Linked DNA regions of Homo sapiens: region 1 is linked to region 2. The links come from fine-mapping of genetic effects on gene expression. A gene starts in region 2. The other region holds a variant in brackets. All regions are shown on one strand. Distances are from middle to middle. Region 1 overlaps ELAPOR1 (endosome-lysosome associated apoptosis and autophagy regulator 1). Region 2 holds the start of SARS1 (seryl-tRNA synthetase 1).

Evidence for each region.
Region 1: its variant is fine-mapped to the expression of SARS1 in whole blood (INTERVAL, PIP above 0.99).

The regions. Positions count from the first base shown.
Region 1 is chr1:109,157,885-109,169,738 of GRCh38, forward strand. It overlaps ELAPOR1 (endosome-lysosome associated apoptosis and autophagy regulator 1), which reads left to right. Exons shown (of 22, transcript NM_020775.5): 2 at 4,010-4,130; 3 at 6,615-6,807. Among named protein-coding and RNA genes, the nearest start is that of ELAPOR1, 50 kb to the left of the region's middle. The variant A/G (reference allele first, on the strand shown) is at 6,374.
Region 2 is chr1:109,206,476-109,218,087 of GRCh38, forward strand. It overlaps SARS1 (seryl-tRNA synthetase 1), which reads left to right and starts at 7,443. Exons shown (of 11, transcript NM_006513.4): 1 at 7,443-7,653. The coding sequence starts at 7,518. It overlaps ELAPOR1 (endosome-lysosome associated apoptosis and autophagy regulator 1), which reads left to right. Exons shown (of 22, transcript NM_020775.5): 22 at 1-306. RefSeq lists a silencer at 7,237-7,456 and an enhancer at 7,507-7,866.

The DNA.
Region 1 (11,854 bases), 48 kb before region 2:
AAACAGTTCCTTTTTTTATTTGAGACAGGGTCTCACTCTGTCATCTGGGCTGGAATGTAGTGGTACAATCACGGCTCACTGCAGCCTCAACCTCCCAGGCTCAGGTCATCCTCCCACCTTGGCCTGCTGAGTGGCTGGAACTACAGGCACATGCCACCACGACCGATTAATTTTTGTATGTTTAGTAGAGACGGGGTTTCACCATGATGGCCAGGCTGGTCTCAAACTCCAGACCTCAAGTAATTCGCCCACCTTGACCTCCCAAAGTGCCAGAATTACAGGTGTGAGCCACTGCGTCTGGCCTCTAAACTGTTACTTTGATAATCATTTTTAAAAGTAACAGATACTATTTTGAAAGCAAGTGGTGGGAAGGTAGAAGGAAGGACAGATTTCCATCCAGATACCATCCTGACTTGACAGTTTTCTTTTTTTTTTTTTTTTTGGTCATTTCAGCAGTCCATTCAATACCTAGACAGTAAGGACTAAAAATATTGTGAGTCTGAGTGAATTCTTCTAGAACTGAAAGATCAGTGTTACCGACAGATCAGTCAATACAGGCAAAGCATATTCCAGTTTCAGGGTTTTTTTCCTCTTCCTTCTCATGTGCCCAGGAGTATTACATGGCTGGGTGACGCTACGGAAGGATGCGCTAACTACAGTTCCCCACCCTCTCATTTCTAAACCCTTCCTTTGTTTTTCTGATGAACAGGCAGCACCCACTGCCTGCTGTGTCCCATTTAGCAGTGTAATTTGGGTGTGCGTCATAGAATTGTGCACAGGGAGGGGGAAGGAGTTACGTGCTGGATGTATATACTGAACGTGTTTATGTGCTCCTTTGTAGACCTGCACTTTATGCAAATTATATACTTTCAGACAGATCACTGAGTAAACTGAGTAACAGATCACTGAGTAAACTGTCAGGGAATTGATGTGTTTGCAGAACGCTGAATATAATTGAGGAGTCCTGCCAGTTCTATCCCTGGTTTAACTCTCTCTAAGCTTATGTCTTTTTTTTTTTTTTTTTTTAGACGGAGTCTTGCTTTTTTTGCCCAGGCTGGAGTAAAGTGGCGTGATCTTGGCTCACAGCAACCTCTGCCCCCACTCCCAGGTTCAAGCGATTCTCTTGCCTCAGCCTCCTGAGTAGCTGGGATTACAGGCGCGTGCCACCACACCTAATTTTTGTATTTTTAGTAGAGACAGAGTTTCACCATGTTGGTCAGGCTGGTCTCAAACTCCTGACCTCAGGTGATCCACCCACCTTGGCCTCCCAAAGTGCTGGGATTACAGCGTGAGCCACCGTGCCCCGCCCTAAGCTTATGTCTTGAATGGTGTGATCTCAAAGTGTAGTTCAGATTTGAAACAGGTGTATTAGAACCAGCCACCTTGAATTAATATCCCCAAGTGGCATGAAGTAAATGAGCATATATTGAAAGGGAAATTTTCTTAGGCTTGGAACCACCATTTCCTCAGCAAACCTCCCACCTGAGTGAGACCCAGGGGACATCAAATGAAAGACGATGAAAAGTAATGGATTTGGCCCATGTGCCTCTAAGAGGCCAATGCAGTCAGAATGAACTGAGATGATCTTCGAACAGATTAGATATTTTAACACCAATTCTTGGGCCTCAGAAGTGAGCCTGGCTGCTGGCACACAACCAACACTGTCATGTTTAATTTTTAGATTTGGCTGTTAAATTTGGCCCTGTGTGAGTCTGTGTTTGGTCAGAGTCTATAAGGGTGGAGGAGGATTCCTGGTGGGAAGGCCTGGTTTCTAGCTCAGTGACTTATCGGCTGCATGACTTTGGACAAGCTATCACACCACTGAGAGTCATTTTCTCATCTGTACAATGAAGGAAACAACCCCTGGTCTACTTGCCTTATAGGGAGTCGTGAAGATGAAACGAGATGGTATTTGGGAACTGTGAACACACTACACAAAAGACCAGCATGAATATGTTCAGAAGCACCACACAGTCCTTTCTGCCTTGCTCACTCAATTCTCCATTTAATTTATACACAGTGGATTTTACCCCTCATTCTTGCAGCAAAACCCTTTTGAGAGTATCATTTTAAGAAGTGGATTGACATCATATATGTATAGTTGCCCTATTTGTCCTCAGAGTCTGAGATGAGGAAAAGACAAGAATTATTGGGAAAAATAGACCCAGAGAGGGCACAAAGAATTCCCATCCTGATGTTCTTTCTTTCCTAGATGACATTGACATCTACATCCAAAGCCAAAGATTCTGGTCAAGAGTTAATCTATTGGCTGGGCATGGTGTTGCATGTAGTGGCTCCTGTAGTCTCAGCTACTTGGGAAGCTGAGGTGGGAGGATCACTTGAGCCCAGGAAGTCAAGATTACAGTGAGCCATCATCACGCCACCGCACTCCAGCCTGGGTGACAGAGCAAGAGACTGTCTAAAAAAAAAAAAAAGAAAAGAAACTACATCTTTACCATATTGCAACAAGTCTGAAATGCCACTGCTTCTAAGACACCATTTTTTTAATGTGTCATCAAGAAAGAAAAAGCTCTCTATCCCTTAAAACATAACACAATTCTTCCTTACTGTGTCAATTTTAAGACACGTCTTGATTTCATAGATGTTAGATGTGGAAAAAGCGTGCATCTTGGAATAGATGAAATGCAGTGTGTTTACCTATCCCCAAAAATAAAGCTTATTCCTTTTGATCCTGACGCATTATTAGATTAGCAAACTTCAAAACTTGTATTTTTTGTCTTAGCTCCTTGACGTTATACATGTTATGCAATCAGGCTATCACGTGGGTTAAAGGGGGACATTAATTCTATTTTTCTTATGCATACAGTAATACAAAATACCTCTGGGCTTGAATATAGTTTTAGGTAAGTGTAGATTGTAAAATACTTGTCAGAGCCAAAATCATCACTAATTCCATGGTCTGTTGTTTATTACCAGATTTAAAGGAGGAAGAAACGCTTAAGGGCATTTGGCACATCAATTGTGTTTTCTTTGTTCTGAGTGGAACTGTTTGTTGTTGTTGTTTTACTTAATGCTTGATTTGGTTGTTTTGTTGTTATTCCATTTATTTTTAGCTCAGGTAAAACAATTAAACTATGAGTTTCCCATTGCACAGACAAATTAGGGATGAACAGGCTCAAGTGAGAGCACATCACCTGCCTCGGCCAAATATATTTTCATAAAATGCAATTGGGAATTCATAGTCTTTCTGAGTGGAAAGGAGCATAAGAAACACAGGGAAATAGGGCCAGGCGTGGTGGCTCATGCCTGTAATCCCAGCATTTTGGGAGGCCAAGGCAGGTGGATCACAAAGTCAGGAGTTTGAGACCAGCATGGCTAACATGGTGAAACCCCGTCTCTACTAAAAATACAAAAATTAGCCTGGCGTGGTGGCACTCGCCTGTAGTCCCAGCTACTCGGGAGGCTGAGGCAGGAGAATCGCTTGAACCCAGGAGGCGGAGGTTACGGTGAGCCAAGATCATCCCACTGCACTCCAGCCTGGGCGACAGAGCGAGACTCCGTCTCAAAAAAAAAAAAAAAAAAAAAAAAGAAACACAGGGAAATAGAAATACATACCACTTCTGTGAGGAGCCTTTGTAAATTTTTTGTGGACTAAGGCTTCCATTTAGAACATCCTTCCATTTAGAATGTCCTCGTTCATAAATTCTACACTTTGGAATAAGAAAAATTCCACCTATTTCTAGCCTGTTCCTTAGTTACCTTTCCCACGTTCCTCTGCTCCATAAGGACACTACTTAAACATAACAACAAAGAGAGTCACACACAAAAATGATTTCTAGGGACTAGACCATGGCTGGGTGGAAGGGAATGATCCAAATCATTGTAGTTCTTGTACTCGGTTCATAATCATCAGCTCCCTGCCCGGGGTCCCAGGGCCCATTTCTGAGAGGATGAGCATCAGTAGCCATGGTGCTGGGAAGTGGGTGGGAAGCTGTTAATGTTTGATCACTGCTAATGCACATTTCGCCCACTGTTCTCTCCCCTGCAGTCTGAGTACCACTATGAGTACACGGCGTGTGACAGCACGGGTTCCAGGTGGAGGGTCGCCGTGCCGCATACCCCGGGCCTGTGCACCAGCCTGCCTGACCCCATCAAGGGCACCGAGTGCTGTAAGCAGCTATCCTGCTCAGGGCCTCCCTGTCACTCAGCTTTGGTCTCTCCCCCAAGTCTCCTGCCATCCAATCTGGGCCCTTCCTGGCAGAGCAGCTGCATTAAGGAATCAGATCTTTTCCCCAATTAGTCCCCACATCCCAGACCCTTATGAGATTTGGTGCAGAAGTATTTCATGAATGCAAACTGGATATCTGAATTTGCTTTCATTTTTTAAAGGAATTTAAATCCCATCAGTGGATACAGCATAAGCAATGCCAGCTGTGTGCACTCAGATATTCTTTTCTGTTTGCATACATTTTCATTTTTGCCTTGTATGTCTCTCCAATCTACACTCACTCACCAGCCACAATCAGTCATTAGGCAAGATTGAGATTTGCTTTCATTCTTAAAAAGGAAGTCAGAGAGGCTAAGTTTCTGCAGAGACGTCCTTTAAAATGCTCCAGGCATCACTTCAGGAGACAAGAATCTTCTTGACTGTGGGTCTGATTGTGCAATAGGAAAGGCAGTGGCTTGCCGCAGCCCCAGCACCCGCCTCTGTGACTCTGCAGTCACAACTTTTCTACAATTGGCAGCTGTTTCCCCTGCATTATTCTTTTAGGAATGCAAAGGGAATAACAAGAAAAACCAGGCACTAGATTTAAGGAATTATCTGAAGAGTTGGAAAGGAGTTTGAAGATATTTAAATTCTAAAATCAGCTTAGTACAGTGCCTGGTTGAGTAAGTGAGCAAATAAATACTTGTTAAATTAATGACTGGATATTGCTGAGACCTGAGCAGAACTGAGGTGTGACTAGTGGAAACAAATGAGCCATCTTCATTGAACTCTGCTGACTTCAGTGAGTCCCACTATGTGTTAGCACCATGATGTGCACATGCAGTGTGAACTGCAAAGACAAATAAGGCACACTCTCTGCTTTCAGAAGCTTAGGGTGGTGGAAAGTGCAGACATTCATTCATTCACTCATTGTTTCAGAAACATTCATGAAGCTCCCAGTCTGTGCCAGTCACTGAGCCAGCCATCCCCAGAGGAGCGCAGAGCCTAGTGGGTGGCAGACATATATGATATGAGAAAGAATGAGAGTTACGAATATTTAGGGATCAGGCATAGCTGGGAGGGCCACTTGAGCAAAAGTTTAGACGTGGATGAAGAGTGACACATTTGAGGAAGAGCTTGTGGTCCAGGGTAGAGGCAACACAGAGAAGGTGATGGATGGAGTTGAGGTGAAAAAAGATTTGTAGTGGGAGGTCAAGCTGGGAAGTTAGGCTGCAGGGAAATCGTGGAAAACTTTGAATGCCAGGCCAAGAGCATAATTCTAGAACCAAAAGGGAGTGCCTGTTTATTTTTAAAATAAGGAGAATAATAGTACATACGTGTTTTACTTTTTATTTTTTTAAAGACAAGGTCTCACTCTGTTTCCTAGGCTGAAGTACAGAGGTGCAATCATAGCTCTGTAGCCTCGACCTCCTGGGCTCAAGTAATTTTCCCACCTCAGCCTTTTGAGTAGCTAGGATTACAGGCACACGCGACCACTCCCAGCTAATTTAAACATTTTTTTTTTTGGTAGTGACAGGGTCTCACTGTGTTGCCCAGGTTGGCCTCAAACTCCTGGGCTCAAGTGATCCTCCTGCCTTGGTCTCTCAAAGTGTTGGGTTTACAGGTATGAGCCACTGTGCCTGATCACATCTGTTTTAGAAAGGTACCTCTGACCACAGAATGAGCAAAAATAAGAATAGGGAACTAGTTAGGAGGATATTGCAATGATTGAGTTAACAGGTCATGAGAATTCCACCTAGCATGGTGGCAGTACAACCAGAAAGGCAGAGGCCAGAGGCTCAAGGGAGAAATTCAAGGCTGAAGGGCCATGTGTCATTCAGAGGGGTCAGCACAAGAGACCTTGGCATCTTCTTCACCAGAGAGCTCTCAGAATGGTCAGGGCACCTCTCCAAAGGAAACGAGTGCCAGGAACAAGCCCAAAGTCCCACAGCAAGGCAGAGCATCCGTGGCCCTAGATCTATTTTTTTTATAACAGCTTTATTGGTATATAATTTATATGCCATGAAATTCATTCCTTTAAGGATAAAATTCAGTGGTTTTTAGAATATTCACAGCAACCATCATCACTCTCATTTCACATTTTAATCATCCTAAAAAGAAACCTCATATTATTAGCAATCTCTCCCCAGGCCCCTCCCCACAGCCCCTGGCAACCACAAATCTACTTTCTGTCTCTATGGCTTC[A/G]CCTCTTTTGGCCGTTCCATACAAATAGAATGACACATAGCAAGGAATATCACTGCTGAAAAAAAAATTTTTTTAAGAAAAATAAAATCAAATCACACAGTAAATGCCATGGCCCTAAATCTTAGTGGGCCAAACTCCTAGACCCCAACCCAGCGCTCCTCCCTTCAGCTGCTCGCAGCCCATTCACTTCTGGGGCTGCAGTGACCTCACTGCCCCACCTTGTCTCTGCCCTGTTTTCCAGCCTTCTCCTGCAACGCCGGGGAGTTTCTGGATATGAAGGACCAGTCATGTAAGCCATGCGCTGAGGGCCGCTACTCCCTCGGCACAGGCATTCGGTTTGATGAGTGGGATGAGCTGCCCCATGGCTTTGCCAGCCTCTCAGCCAACATGGAGCTGGATGACAGTGCTGCTGAGTCCACCGGGAACTGTACTTCGTGAGTCTGCACACACCCCCACCCCACCCCCAGCCCACTGGGTAAGGGGCTACAGGGCACACTGGACAGCCTCCTCCGCTGCCCCTCAGGCTGGGCAGGGAGGATGGAGGGAAGAGGAAGCCAGGCTGCCAGGGTGAGGCCTGCAGCTGTGCCCGCAAGACCAGTGGATGTGACTCTGCCTGGCCCACTCTTACTGGCCTAAACTTACCAGTGATGGACAGGCATTTGTGGGAGGTAAAAAACATGAGGAAATAAGAGAGTGGACAAGGGGGGCAAGGGTTAAATGGCCCAGTCTATTTAAAACAAAACCCAATTGGAGCTGGGCACAGTGACTCACCCCTGTAATCCCAGCACTTTGAGAGGCTAATGTGGGAGGATTGCCTGAGGCCAAGAGTTTGAGACCAGCCTGGGAAACATAGCGAGACCCCTGTCTCTACAAAAAGTTAAAAAATTTGCCAGGTGTGGTGGTGCATGTCCGTAGTCCCAGCTACTCGAGAGGCTGAGGCAAGAGGATAACTTGAGCCTAGGAGTTCAAGGTTAGACTGAGCTATGACCGCACCACTGTACCCCTGGATAACAGAGCAAGACCCTGTCTCATTGAAAAACAAAAACCGGCAGGGCGCGGTGGCTCACGCCTGTAATCCCAGCACTCTGGGAGGCCGAGGCGGGTGGATCACTTGAGGTCAGGAGTTCAAGACCAACCTGGCCATGGTGAAACCCCGTCTCTACTAAAAATACAAAAAATTAGCCAGGCCTGGTGGTGCATACCTGTGATCTCAGCGACTCGGGAGGCTGAGGCAGGAGAATCGCTTGAACTGGGAAGCGGAAGTTGCAGTGAGCTGAGATCGCACCATTGCACTCCAGCCTGGGCAACAAGAGTGAAACTCCGTCTTAAAAAAAAAAAAAAAAGAAAAACAAAAACAAAAACCAAAAAAACCAACCGGATTTCCACCACGGAATTTCAGATCAGCCAATATACTTTCTCAGCTTGACTGGAACACAATATGCAAAGCTTGGGTATCTTCCCGGCTTGGGTGCTAACTTCTTCTTCTTCTTCTTTTTTTTTTTTTTGAGACAGAGTCTCACTCTGTCGCCCAGGCTGGAGTGCAGTGGTGCCATCTTGGCTCGCCACAAGCCCCAGCTCCCAGGTTCAAGTGTTTCTCCTCCCTCAGCCTCCTGAGTAGCTGGGTTACAGGTGTGTGTGCCACAATGCCCGGCTAATTTTTTTTTTTTCTTTTTTTTGAGATGGAGTCTCGCTCTGTCACCCAGGCTGGAATGCAGTGGTGCCCTCTCCGCTCACTGCAAGCTCTGCCTCCCGGGTTGACGCCATTCTCCTGCCTCAGCCTCCCGAGTAGCTGGGACTGCAGGCACCCGCCACCACGCCCAGCTAATTTTTTGTATTTTTAGTAGAGATGGGGTTTCACCGTGTTAGCCAGGATGGTCTCGATCTCCTGACCTCGTGATCCACCTGCCTCGGCCTCCCAAAGTGCTGGGATTACAGCGTGAGCCACCGCACCCAGCTAATTTTTTTGTATTTTTTTAGTAGAGATGGGGTTTCACCATGTTGGCCAGGCTGGTCTCAAACTCCTGACCTCAGGTGATCCACCTGCCTCAGCCTCCCAAAGTGCTGGGATTACAGGCATGGGCCACCTTGGCTGCTAACTTCTGAAACTGATTCTGCCTAGCCTTTGCCCAGTGCTGGCTGAAATCTTCCAAATGCTGTGAGACCCCAATGACTAGCAAATTTTCTTGGAAAGCTCAGTCCAGGGTGCTTGGAGAACTGGATATCTATTTCAGATATGTCTTTTGTAGGCCAGGCACTATTCTGGATGCTTTACATATATTATTTTCTCTAATTCTCACAAGAACCTTGTGAAATAGGCATTACTATTTCTATTACAGAGACGAGGAACTGGAAGCTCAGCAAGGTTATGACCTGCTCTTTGTTATCCGGTTTACAGCCGGCGAGATTGAAATTCGAACCCAAGCTTCCACTGCTCCATAATGCCACATTCAAATAACATTTATTATGGGCAAGGCAACACTGGGTCCTAGGGAGCGAAAGTGGGGGGATATGAGGATGTGAAAGGCAGCCATATTGTTCCTTATTAAATATGGACAGTGAATACAGGAGGAAAGCAAGTGAAAGTTTCACTTATACCCAAACAATCAAATGGATAAGAAGGACTCAAGAATTGTATTACACTTGGATTTCTAAAAACCGGGAGCAATGTTTCCCATTCCTATACTTAAATCTTGTCTAAGCCAAGCAGTGGCTATTTAATCTGTAGTCCAATTTTAATGTTATGTTATTTTAGAGTTCAACTTGGTGTGTCAGATTCATTAGCATGACAATACTGGAGGCAGAGATAAAGCTAGAGAGCTTTAAAGCTGGAAGGAGCGGGAATGTGTGGGTTAAGACAACCAACTCCCATTTGAGTCCTAACTGAGAATGTCATTAGGCCCTGGACAAGGTGCAGACATGGCTCAGTCAATTCCTACCCATGTAAAGGAAGGATTTCTTCTCTCTCTGGGGACTGCACCGAGAGTCCAGAAATCATTATCTCTCAGAGAGGCAGGATGTGGGTGGGTTAATAACAACTTGTGTTTCCACCGCACGGACTATTTCAGGGCCTGCATCTTAAGGCATCCCACGACATCCCGGGGAGGGAGGGAGAGGATATTTCTCTGTCAATGGAGAGGAAATGGCCATCTGGAGAGCTTTTGTGGTTTCCCCATCATCCCTCAGAAAGGCAATAATTGAGCTAATACCTAGAGCGCAAGTATTTGGCTTTCCTATTCAGCTGTGCAGCTACCCAAATCCTGCCTGCTCTGCCTCAAGAGACTCCAAGCTCATCTCCTGCTTCCATTCCCAGCCTCCTCCAGGCCTGTCCACTCAGCAGCCAGATTCATCTTTCTTTTTTCTTTTTTTTAAGAAACAAGGTCTCACTCTGTCACCCAGGCTGGAGTGCAATGGCGCAATCACAGCTCACTGCAGCCTCAACCTCCCCGGGCTGAAGCCATCTTCCCACCTCAACCTCCCGCGTAGCTGGGACTGCAGGCTCATGCCACCACACCTGGCTAACTTCTTATTTTTCTAGAGACACGGTTTCACTTATGTTGCCCAGGTTGGACTCAAACTCCTGGGCTCAAATGATCCTTCCGCCTCAACCTCCCAAAGTACTGGGATTACGGATGTGAGCCACTGCACCCAGCCTCATCTCCTTAAATCCAGTCACAGTACTTTCCCGCTCAAAACCCTAGATTCAATGGCTACCAATTGCTCTTGGGATAAAGTCCACTACCTTCCCACAGCCTGCAGGGCCCTGCTGCCCTGCCCCCTGCCCTCTGCTTGTTTCCCCAGCCTCTCCCAAGTTCCTTCTGTCTTCACTTGCTGTGTTCCAGCCACACTGACCATCACACTCCTTCCCCTCCTCAGGGCATTTGAACATGTGACTCTCTGTCCCCTCTTCTATGTCTCCTACTTAACCCTCAGGTCTCTACCTAAAAATCCCTTCCTCAAAGAAACCATCCCCGACCCCACAGACTCCTGTTACACTCTCTTTATCATCCTGCATTTCTCCAATGGCACTTATCACAGTCATTGCTATGTGATTGTGTGATTAGTTAAGCTTCTGTCTCCTCAACTAGAAAGAGAATGCAAGCCCCAAGAGGGAAAGGATCATACTTGTCTTGTTCATCACTGTGTCTCCAGCATCTAACATAGTGTCTGGCTCAAAATAGACAAAATAAATAATTGGGGACAAAACAGACCAGCTGAACGGAGTCTCCATGGCAGGATTCTGAGCCTTCAGGGATCCTCCCATGGGTCCTGGGTTGATGTCCCAGGGCTAAGGTACTGGCCTGAGATCAGAAACTAGGATAAGCTAAGGGAACAGGAGTGACGTGGGTGTAATAGAAAGAATGTCATATATTAGTGGAAAAGATCAAGCAGACGCCCAAAGACTGTGACAGTGAAACAAGAATGAGAGAGAAATGTAAACATTAAAAATGAAAAACATTATATGCAGATCACAACTGGATGACCTAGGGTAAGTTTCCTAAGCACTTCTGGGCTTCAGTTTCTTCATTCTAAAAATGATGATAAAAATAGTACTCTTATAGTTGAGGTAAGGATTGATGAGATGATACTTGTAAAGAATTTAGAGCGATGCCTGACACTAGAAATCAATCAAAACATGTTGTTATTATTGAATATGAAATGTCTTCACCGGGGGCAATTCTGACAAAAATCAGAATTATGATGCATTTTGCAAATGTAACCCACTTATGGCATCTTTTAAATTATTTATTAAACTTCAAGAGTTATTTATAGCTGATGTCGTGGAGCATATCAGCATTAAAGGTTATCCCTTTCAACAAGGAGAAATCAATGCTGTTAGGTTAGCTGGGATATTTTGGATGAGCTCATGTTATATGTTTTCGTTTTGAGAATAACACTGACTGTCAAAGAGCTGAAAATAACCATGTTATTCTGACAAACACAGGGGGAAATCTGTGGACTAATCTGAGATTCCTTTAACTGGCTATTATTATTATTATTTTGATATGGAGTCTCGCTTTATCACCCAGGCTGGAGTGCAATGGCACAATCTCGGCTCACTGCAACCTCCGCCTCCCAAGTTCAAGTGATTCTCCTGCCTCAGCCTCCTGAGGAGCTGGGATTACAGCCACGTGCCACAACACCCAGCTAATTTTTGCATTTTTAGTAGAGATGGGGTTTCACCATGTTGGTCAGGCTGGTCTCGATGGTCTCGAACTCCTCACCTCAGGTGATCCACCCGCCTCAGCCTCCCAAAGTGCTGCGATTACAGGCATGAGCCACCACGCCCACCCAACTGGCCATTATTAAGCAACTGGAAACCTGGGCTGGTCTCAGGCAAAACAGTGCAATAGCGTGAGTGTTTTCGATTACCTGTTTCCACATTCAACTCTTTAACCCTGTGACTCCCCACTATGTGCCAGGTCCAGGCTGGTGCTGGGAATACTTTAGTGAGTAAGGTAAATTTGGTCTCTTCCCTCACAT
Region 2 (11,612 bases):
ATCTGTATTTGGCTGGGAATACAAATGAAGATTGTGGTGTATTCAAGCAGTAGGGTTTTTGCTTTTGTTTTTGTTTTAGTGCCAACAAAACTTTTTTTTGTCTGACTACATTAAAGATAAGACTGACTATATTTATACAACAGAAACTTTGTAATAGATTTTTTCAGCTTTGTGAAATCGAATTTTTTTTCATCAGGGCTGGTTGGATTTCCTTTTTACCCTGTAATCCAAGCGTTAATAGTTTGTTAGAAGATGGGTTATTGCATGTCACTTTTTTTTTTTGTAAAATAAAAACATACCTTACAAGTTGTTTTTCTTAAACATGGGTTGGGTGGCTGGAGGGGTGAGTGGGAAATGTAAGTGTCCTGGAAGCTTAAACTGAAAAGGAGAAGGATTCCACATTCGCAGAGAGGCAGAGAAAAGAGCACAGACTTTGGAACAAGATGGACATAGGCTAGAAGCCTCCCACTACTTGTTGAGGAATCAGTCAATAACCAAAGCCTCAGTTTCCACAATAATAAAATGCATCTAATGATACCCAACACACCAAGATTGAATGAGCTCAAAAGAAATAACTCATAAACCACTTCGCATGCTACTTCCCTTCCCTTCTGCTCAGGTTTCTTTCAGGAAACATGAGGCCAGCCACATAACAATAAATCCACAAATAGAAGCAAAATTAGCTTCTTTGGGTATGAAGTAGATTATTACAGACTAGATGTGGAGAAAATCCTAGATGATATCAAGGGCCTACCATTTCCTGAGGTTGCTAGATTTTTGCTTTCTTTCTTTTTTTTTTTTTTTTTCTGAGGCTCACTATGTTGCCTAGGTTGGAGTGCAATGGCACAATCTCAGCTCACTGCAGCTCCAACCTCCTGGGCTTGAGTGATCCTCCCACCTCAGCCTCCTGAGTAGCTACAGGCATGCGCCACCACACCTGGCTAATTTTTGTATTTTTTGGAGAGACAGGGTTTCACCATGTTGCTGGTCTCAAACTCCTGGGTTCTAGAGATCTGCCCACCTTGGCCTTCAAAGTGCTGGGATTGCAGGCATGAGCCAGCGTGCCTGGCAGGATTTTTCTGCTTCAGGACTTTATTCTAGTTGAGGGCACTTGATCCCCAAAAATAATTCTCTCAGCTATTAATAGATGAGTTGGGAATGTCACACTTTTCAGACTGAATGGCACTAAGTGCCAGATGTTCTTCGTCAGGGTCCTTAGGTAATTTCTAGTCTTCTAACAGGCCTCTCCGCGCCAGTGCTTCCCACACCAGTATCACCCCCCTGCTCTGTAGCCAGAGCTCTTTTTCTTTTTTTCATGAAAAGTTTTCTGGTAAAAGGCAGAAAACCTGCTAACCAAATTCTAAAAGAGGGTGTGGCGGCTCATGCCTGTAATCCCAGCACTTTGGGAGGGCCAGGCTGGAGGATCGCCTGAGGCCAGGAGGTTGAGGTTGCAGTGAGCTATGATGGTGGATTGCACCACTGCCCTCCAGCCTAGGTGACAGAGGCAGACCCTGTCTGTAAAAAAAATAAAAAAATTCTACAAGAGCTGGAACACTCAGAGCCGTTTTTCTAACACATCTGATGGCACTCAAATGTGCCATCTCTGATGGCTCCTTATTGCTGTCAGGCAGGAGCAATTGGCAGCAGCTCACCTACACTCCAAGGCTGGTTGTTTATGACCCACATCTACTTTGACTGGGTGGTACCTGGGTTGTACTGGTGGTTAAATATTTTGAACATCACCCCTGCTTATAACATACAGTCCAAACTCTAAGAAGGTAAGTAGAAAAGAAAACGCATTCGTTTGGCATCTGTGTCAAGCCTGGACTTAATGCTTTCACAGCATTGCCTTTTTTCATTTTCAGAACAGCCCTGGAGGCAGCTACTATCCCCATTACACCCATTACAATAGAGGAAGAAACTGTGTCTCCAATAGATTCAGTTACGTGGCCTACAGGGTCCCTAACGGCCCACCGGCCCACCTTCCCAACATTGTTTCTACTCTAACCACACTGAGCTTTTGATGGTCTCTGAGTCATAAGCACCTTCATGCCTCCAGCATTGGAATATGCTCTCCTCTCTGCCCCTCTGCTTCCTTTTCACCTCACAGATCCCACTCAGCCTTCCACGTCACCCCACTGTGGGAAATAACAGGGCAAAAACAGTCCCATGGGAGTACCGCTATGAATCTTTATGAATACAACCGTGTACTGTGCAATGCAACAAACAAGCAACAGACACAATCAAGCTTGAAACTGCGGGGCAGTGAGAGGGGTGTGTAATGATATGGAAATGATTTTAAGAATTTCCCAATCACTGACAAAGAAGTAAAATACATTATCAGGTGACCAGGCAAGAATATACTTACGACTTGGTCTAAATCTTAAGGAAGACAATTAATTAACTGGGAAGCATAGAGCAACAATGAGTATTAAGAGATAGAGAAACTGATTTAGGGTTTTTAAGAGCTATTCAAGGAGAATTTGAAATATAAACTAATTTTGTCTCAGTGCCAAAGTTAACAATCCCACATAAAATGCAATTCCCTATAGAGTAGTTCAGCCTTAACGGTACTTTCACTTTCCACAGTTTCAGTTACCTAAAGTCAACTTAAGTCAAAAAATATTAAATGAAAATTCCAAAAATAAACAATTTATAAGTTTTAAATTGTATGCCATTATGAGTAGCATAATGACATCTTGTGCCATCTCACTCCTTCCCACCTGGGACATGAATCATCCCTTTGTCCAGAGTATCCATACTGTCTGCACTATCCACCCATTACTCACTTAGCAGCCATCTGAGTTACCAGATCGAAAAAGCACAGTATATGTAGGGATCCGTACTCTCCGTGGTTTCAGGCATCCACTGGAGACTACCGTAAGATACAGTGTGGTGGGAGAATTGATTTCGCACCCCAATTCTATCAGATGGAGAGGCTGGATCAAAGTCCCTCCAAGTCCTGGCAGCTTTCCCCGACCCACGCTATTTTTAAATGATTCCTGCTTAGTTGCTGAAGGATAGCAACGTGGACCTCCTTTGTTACTGTGTCTCTCTGATAGAAGGGAGTGGGTAAGCCAGAACTGGAGGCAGGGTTGTCAGTTCCTCCTGAAACAGTATCATCAATACTACTGTACTGTGGGAAACGGGAAGGGTGTCTAACCAATTTGCAGGGAGGGGTAAAGAGGATGTAAGAGAAGGCTTCCAGGAGAAAGGAGGAATTAGCCAGGTAAGAGGAACAGAGAAGGGAAAGGGAGTTCCAGGTAGAAGGAACTTGTGCAACCAAAGGCTCAGAGGGAAGGAAGGGAGCCACAAGAAGGTTGGAATGGGGAATACGAGGGGGAAATGTTAAGAGATAAAGAGGGCCAGGTGAGGTGGCTCATGCCTGTAAACCCTGCACTTTAAGAGGCCAAAGTGGGTGGATTGCTTGACCCCAAGAGTTCGAGACCAGCTTGGGCAACATGGCAGAACCCTGTATCTACCAAAACAAAAACAAATACAAACATTGCCTGGGGCATGGTGGCACACATCTGTAGTCTCAGCTACTCGGGAGGCTGAGGTGGGAGGATCCCCTGAAGCTGGAAATGTCGAGGCTGCAGTGAGCCATGGTTGTACCACTGTTTTCCAGCCTGGGCAACAGAGTGAGACTCAGTCTCACATACACACACACACACACACACACGAGATAAAGAGGGAACATGTTAGAGAAGCTGGTAGGGACAGATCATATATAGCGTTGCCAGCCATGTTTGGATTCCCCTGAGGGTAACAGGTATCCACAGAAGACTTCTAGCAAGGGAGTGACAGGACCGGACTTGTTCGGTGAACATTGAGAAACCCTACTCCAAATCCAAGACAGAGGAACACAAAGGGCTGCCACAGTGAGGCCTCAGAGAACCCTTCCGAGTTAGCCAGCTCCAAACTGGGAAAACTGAGGTAGGCAGCTTTTGTTGGGTGCCTCACACCCGCTTTTTTTGCTCCGTCTCTGCAGTTGCTCTTTTCCCCTAGGCTGCCCACTAGCTGCCCAGGATCCCCAAGGCAGTATCTTCACCCAGGACTCTGCTCGCTGACCTGCAACAAGCTCCCATCCTCTCAGCCTACTTCCTCGCAACCCACTCACTCAGGGAGGATGTAACAAGCACTTACCATGGGTAAGGCAGGGTGCTAGGTCCCGTGGGGAGAAAAATGCAAATACGCAATGGTCTCTGCCCTATAAGATCAGGCCCCATAGCATAGTCAGGGTCCTCACTGACCTGTTTTCTGCTAAGGATTGCTACTAAAAGGGCAAAGCCCAAACATTAGGCTATCTTAGGTATTTACCTGTGTCCTGGTTTTGATTCCATCACTTATCTTCTCTGGGGCTGTTTCCTTATATAGAAAATAAAAGGGTTAGCCTGGCTGGCTGTTTTCCAGTCAGGGCTTCTTGAGCACTTCAGTCCTCAGAGGCAGTGCCCAAGAGCATTCTTGGTAGTAAGGGTTAACAGAAATCACATATTCAAAGGTGGCAGGGCTTCACACCATCACTCCATAACGAAAGTTTTTATGTTGATTTGTTTTTGCGTTAGCTTCTGGCAGGAGTTACTTGGTGCAGTAACACTGCCTATTTCCTGCTGATCAGAATTTCTAGGTGGCAGCCATATAGATCTGATTAATAAAAAAGGCAAATTATTATTTTTTAAAAATCATGTTCATTAGACAAAAATATTTCAAAACATGAGGGACAAGGTGATGAAAAAATCAGGAATTATTAAGTTAACAGATAGCTGAAGCTCCCCTCCAACTCTAAAAATCCCACGATTCTAAGCTGATGAAGTATGCTATTATGTTAATTTATTATACTCATCAGGTAACATCAACTTTTTTTTTTTTTTTTTTGATACAGAGTCTCACTCTGTTACCCAGGCTGGAGTGCAGTGGCGTGATTTAAGCTCACTGCAACCTTCGCCTCCTGGGTTCAGGCAATTTTTGTACCTTAGCCTCCCAGGTAGCTGGGATTACAGGCATGTGCCACCACACCCAACTAATTTTTGTATTTTTAGTAGAGACGGGATTTTGTCATGTTGGCCAGGCTGGTCTCGAACTCCTGACCTCAGGTGATCCACCCACCTTGGCCTCCCAAAGTGTTAGGATTACAGGCATTAGCCACCGCGCCCGCCCATATGAACATTTTAAAGGGAGATGTTTGTAATCTAATGATAAGATCAATTGTAAAAATGCATGAATAAATTTGGAGAGATCAGAATTTCAAGATCACTTGTTGAATGACATTGATGACCTTCCTAAAGGGTTGACCCAGTGGCCCTCCTCCCCTAGGCCTGGGATCACTTCAGCCTCAGAAACACCTGCCACTGTTTTAGAAACTTAATTGGCAATACACTTTGGCGGTGCCTTCAATGACATGGAAGCAGGGAGCGCCCCCATCACAGACCTTGCCCTCAGAAGGTTTTAGGGAACCCAACACTTTGAGGAGAGTCTTCTTAGATGTTTTCCTCCAAGACTGCAGCTCCTCACCCTTCCTTTCCACTGGTTTTAAATCTAATACCATAGGCAGGTTGAACCAAGGAGAGCACACCCAGACAAGCCCCTTTCCTCTGCCTCCCTCAGGGTCTCTACTTAGCTCTATCATTGTTGTTAGACCTGACCTACACTTCAGGGTTGGCTTGGCAGAGGCTTTTTGGGGAGCAGGGATAGTGTAAGAGGCAAAAAAAAACAAAAAACAAAAAACAAAAACAAAAACCCACACTCAACACACAACATTTCTGTGACCAGATGCAGTGGTGAGGGGCCCTGGGGGGTAAGTTCCTCAGACACCAAGCGATTCTCCAGTGGACATTGGCTAAGCATTCTATAATTCAATTCGATTCTGATTCTGACACTAGCTACCTGGAGGTAGTGTCAGATTCCATGGGGTAAGGGCTTGATCCCACTAGACTGCTCCTCTTCAGATGCCAATTGCAAGTAGTAGATTTCACCTATACTTCTTAGCAGCTATAAACTGGGGCTCCCACTACCCCCTCCTTTGGTCTGATTAATTTGCTGAGAAGGCTCACAGACCTCAAGGAAACATTTACCAGTTTATTATAAAGGATAGTACAAAGGGTACAAATGAACAGCCAGATGAAGAGATGGATAGGGCAAGGTGTCAGGGGTGCAGAGCTTCCATAACCTTTCTGGGCAAGACACCCTCCTGGCATCTCCACATGTTCAACAACCCTGAAGCTCATCAACTCTTGTTGTTCGAGCGTTTATAGAGTTTGATGTCCAGCTCCTCCCCTCCCCCTTTCCTGGAGGTTGAAGGGTGGGGATGAAAGTTCCAATCCTCCAATCACTTGGTCTCTCTGGTGACTGGCCCCATCCTAAGGTTATCTAGGGCCCCCATCCTAAATCACCTCCTTATTATAAACTCAGGTGTTATCAAAGAGACCCATTACGTATAACCCAGGAAATTCAAGGGTTTTAGGGGCTGTGTCAGGAACCAGGGACAAAGCCCAAATATATTTCATATTATAAATAAATAATATGATAGTTAGCTATGTCACACCCTCATCTCAGGAGTCCATGACGGCGGTATAAGATCAAGAAGGTCTTAGCACATCTAGCTTCGAGAAGGCATTGGAAGTGAGGCTTTAAAGTTTCTGCAGAGTGGAAGGATTGGGGGTGGGGGTGGGGGAGGAGATCACCTGTTCCCAAATCCTTCAAATAATCTCTTGTTATCAGGGAGATTCTTTGATAACTTTGGCTTCACTCGGCAACTAGAATATTTCATTTAAAGGTCTGAACATTATAAAATCAAAGTATGATACAAACCGTTCTTCAAGACGCTTTCAAATTGACCCAAGACATGACCTCAACACCTTATACGGCGTTCAAATCTGCTTAATGTCCCTTTGGAAAAGTTTTCTCTCGTCTCTCTCTAAAAGACAACCGCACTTTCCCAAAGCTGTGCTCTTAAGAGTTGGTAAAGTGACAATTTGGTTTATCCAATAATCAGATTAATAAAGGTATACCATTTCTAAGGCACGAGAGCAGGAATCTTAAGCTGAGGTAGCCCTGGGACTAAATATGCCATCCTCTTGTATCAAGATGGAGAAGACGGCCGAGGTTCAGGGAAAGAGCCCAGTGGAAGAACCCAACCTAGTGAGAGGAAAACGGGCACCTGGTGAAGGCCCCGGCCTCTAAGCTAGGGATGAGGGGACAGGCCTCTGCCTAGCCTGAGACAGGAGTAGGAAACTGAGGCATTCACACTTTTATGTGGCGATCACAGTTCCTGCAGACTGTAGCAGAGCTGGGGAGCAGGAACCAGAGGTATAGTCCCACGCCCACCCACTCTCCCCTCCCCTCCCTCCGCGGCCCCGCCTCCAACCAGCCGCTTCCGGTCGCGGGGAGGGTCGCCTGCGGGCTCCAGCTGCGCCTGCGCAGGAAGGGCGGGTCAGCGCGCCGGCGCAGTGCGGCGGTCACAGGCTGAGTGCTGCGGCGCGATCCTTGCTTCCCTGAGCGTTGGCCCGGGAGGAAAGAAGATGGTGCTGGATCTGGATTTGTTTCGGGTGGATAAAGGAGGGGACCCAGCCCTCATCCGAGAGACGCAGGAGAAGCGCTTCAAGGACCCGGGACTAGTGGACCAGCTGGTGAAGGCAGACAGCGAGTGGCGACGATGTAAGTACCGGGACGGGCGGGTTACCTCCTTGATGCTAAACCCAATTTTCTCTCTCAAATCCAGCCACCGCTCCTGAGGCCACAGCTTCCACCCTTCGTCAGACCCCCTCCCAGGGTGCGGTGGCTCCGAGGTTCTCCCCATCCCCGAAAACACAGCCTGGTCGCCGGGGTCATCCCACTTTCTCCTCCACCCGGGCGGAGCGAGGTCCCTTCCACGCGTGCTCAGTGCCGTTCGCTGCCAGTGTGCGTACGCACGCGCATCGGGAGCTGTCAAGCCTTCCTGCCCCAGGGGTTGCCAGAACATGCCGGGGCGGGAGGTTGTGGGGTCTACGCGGCTTTCCTAACACGAATCTTTGGTCCCCCCCAGTCTTTTTCTCATCTTCAGCAAGGCCAGAGTGGTTTTCCTTTGTTTTGATAGGATCAAAGGCTTCTCCTGAGACTGCGTCACTTCTGCAACACAGTAGATTCATTCCTTCGGTATCGGAAGCATTTCGGGGCGTTGGAGGCCGCTCTTGGCCAAAATAAATGACCCTGAAGCTTTTCGGAAGGCCATCCCCCGACCTATGGGCATACCTTTAAGAATTAGAAAAGTCTTTTCCGTGGTAGATCAAACGCGAGGGGAGTGAGGAGGCGAGCAAAAGATTGTAATGACTGAAGCTGTTTAATTGTGATTTGTGGACGTTTTCCTTTAAAGACATTGGCAGAGTTGGGCTAGAACCTGGAACTGCCGGATCTTGGAGTCATATCGGGCATCTATCATGAAGCCGAATAAAACCATAGAACCATCTGCCCATAAATCTCTGCCTGTATTAACTGGAGTGGTCGCTGGTTGGGCGGATGCTGTCAAGTACTTGTGATTTGATTTGTCTGATGCAATAGGTCTGCAACCATCTGGGAGCTAGGTCGATGACAGTACACTGCAAAGGCAGCCACTATCCAAGAGTGTGATGGATTTCTATTAGGAAAATTGATTTTCTCCTGTTTATAAGGATCTTGGATGTCAAAAGAATATTTGTTTAACTTGAGTTTTGTGCTGATTCTATGTCTTAGGCCCTCTATTGTAGTAGTTTGTTTGATTGTGAGATTCCACACTTGACCTGAAGTTTCGAGTTGCAATGGAATTTAATTTTGCCACATTTTTTGTTTAGGATAAAACTAGCCTGAGCACTGTTCTACTGAATCTGAAGTCAGGAGTATCAGATTTTTGTGTCAGTCCAGCCCTTAGCCAGTGCTAAATGACTTTGAATGTGTTAGCTAGTCTTTTGGGTATAATGTCCACATCTGAGGGATTTGTCCCTTATCTGAAAAGTAGATAGGTGGTGAGTTCTTCAGGGACAAGGATTCAATTTTATTCATACAGTATATATGTGGATATACATATACACATTTATACATAAAATCCCAGTACCTAGCACTGTACCTGGTCCTTGGTAAGGCCTTGATAAAGGTTTGTTAGAGGCGTGAATATTTTCTGTCTTCAGGGCACTTTATATTCTTTATGAAAAGCAGTTTATGTAGTTTATGTTATTGTTTTAAAAAACTTAATCCTAAATGTGAAGTCATTTCTTTTCTTTGTTTTGTTTTGTTTTGTTTTTGAGACGGAGTCTCTCATTATCACCCAGATTGGAGTGCAGTGGCACCATCTCGGCTCACTGCAACCTCCATCTCCCGGTTTCAAGAGATTATCATGCCTCAGCCTCCAAGTAGCTGGGACTACAGGTGTGCACCACCACACCCAGCTAATTTTTTTTTTTAGTTGAGATGGGAGTTTCACCATGTTGGCCAGGCTGGTCTCTAACTCCTGACCTCAAGTGATCCGCCTGCCTCAGCCTCCCAAAGTGCTGGGATTACAGGTGTGAGCCACCATGCCTGGCCAATAGTTTATTTCCAATGCATCTATTAATTTGATTCTTTTCTATTTGACAACCCTTTCCAATATTCTCTTTGCATCCAAATGGAATTTATGTTTTTTCCCAAGTTCCCAACTGCCCAAGGTAGACACTGGCAGATTTATATCAAGGTTCTTTGACATCTTGAACTTCAGATCAGAGGATGGAGTTCTTCTCTCATTGCCTTGAGCAAGGGCTTATAACCAGAGCCACATTAAGAACTCAGATCATGCTCCCTAATTGAGGACACATAGCAAGCTTCACCAAGCCCTCCACTACAACTATACCAATTTGTCTTCCTGTAGACTTACAAGGTACCACTAGGGTTCCTTTGGAGAACTCAGGAGTCCAGTATAACTTGGAGTGATAATACCACATTGGAACTCACAACTCTTCTAACTCCAGGGATTTGAATGTGATTTCTTCTTTTTAATTCAGAGTAGCGTAATGATCCTACACTTGGGCATATTTGTCTTGGCCCCACTCCCAAAGCAAATAGATTTCCATGTAACTGGAAATCTGCTGCAAACCCCAAGAATTTTATCCTCCCTCAAAAAGTGCTATCCTGAGTGGTTTTTTTTTTCTTTTTACTGTACATTGAAAATTGAAGTTGTTGTTTCCTTTTTTTTTAATTTGAGACAAGGTCTCACTGTGTCACCCAGGCATGATCACAGCTCACTGCAGCCTCAATCTCCCCAGGCTCAGATGATCCTCCTGCCTTAGACTTCTGACTAGCTGAGACTACAGGCGCAATGCCACCATGCCTGGCTAATGTGTGTATTTTTTGTAGAGATGGAGTTTCGTCATGTTGCCTAGGCTGGCCTCAAACTCCTGGCCTCAAGCGATCCTCCCACCTCGGCCTCCCAAAGTGTTGGGATTACAGGCATGAGTCACCATGCCCAGGCTAAAGCTGTTATTTCCTCATAACCTTTACTGCACATGTTTTAAAACAGGTCCTTATCATTGTTTGCCCCAGCAACTGGAATAGCTTTCTATCTGCTTTCAATCTTAACCCAGTCTCACCAGGGCATATAATCTTTCTAGAATGCAAATCTGATCATTTTACTTGAAGGCTTAAGTTTTGCAGTGACATACTTTAGAGCAGCACTGTCTGATAGGAATAGAATGTTAGCTTCATGTATACAGATGCTCCTTGACTTAGGATGGGTTTATGTCCCAATAAATCCACCATAAGTTGAAAATATTGTAAGTAAAAAATGCATGAAATACACATACCCTACTGAATATCATAGCTTAGCCAAGCCTACCTTAAATGTGCTCAGAACACTGATGTTAACCTACAGTTGGGAAAAATCATCTTACACAAACCCTATTTTATAATAAAGTGTGAATATCTCATGTAATTTATTACTATTGATCATAAAGTTTAAGCATTATAAGTTGGCGATAGTCTGTAATTGTTAATTTGTTTGTATCCAATATAAAAAATATAAAGAGAAACAGATGAAATTAATTTTAGTAATACATTTTATTTAACCTAGTCTTGTATACCCAAAAGTTATATATATATAAATATATATATAATTATTATTATTATTTTTAGACAGCGTCTTGTTCTGTTGCCTAGGCTGGAATGCAGTGGCATGATCACAGCTCACTGCAGCCTGGACCTCCTGGGCTCAACTGGTCCTCCCACCTCAACCTTCTAAGTAGCTGGGACCACAGGTGTGCACCACCATGCCCAGCTAATTTTTAATTTTTTGTAGAGACAGAGTCTCACTTTGTTGCCCAGGCTGGTCTCGAATTCCTGGACTCAAGTGATCCTCCCACTTCGACCTCCCACACTGCTGGGATTACAGGTGTGAACCACCACGCCCAGCCCCGAAATTATATTTTCAACACATAATCAGTATTTTTAAATTACTGAAACTAGCCCGGTGCGGTGACTCACTCCTGTAATCCCAGCACTTTGGGAGGCCGAGGCAGGCAGATCACAAGGTCAGGAGATCGAGACCATCCTGGCTAACACGGTGAAACCCCATCTCTACTAAAAATACAAAAATAATTAGCCGGGCATGGTGGGGGGCGCCTGTAGTCCCAGCTACTCGG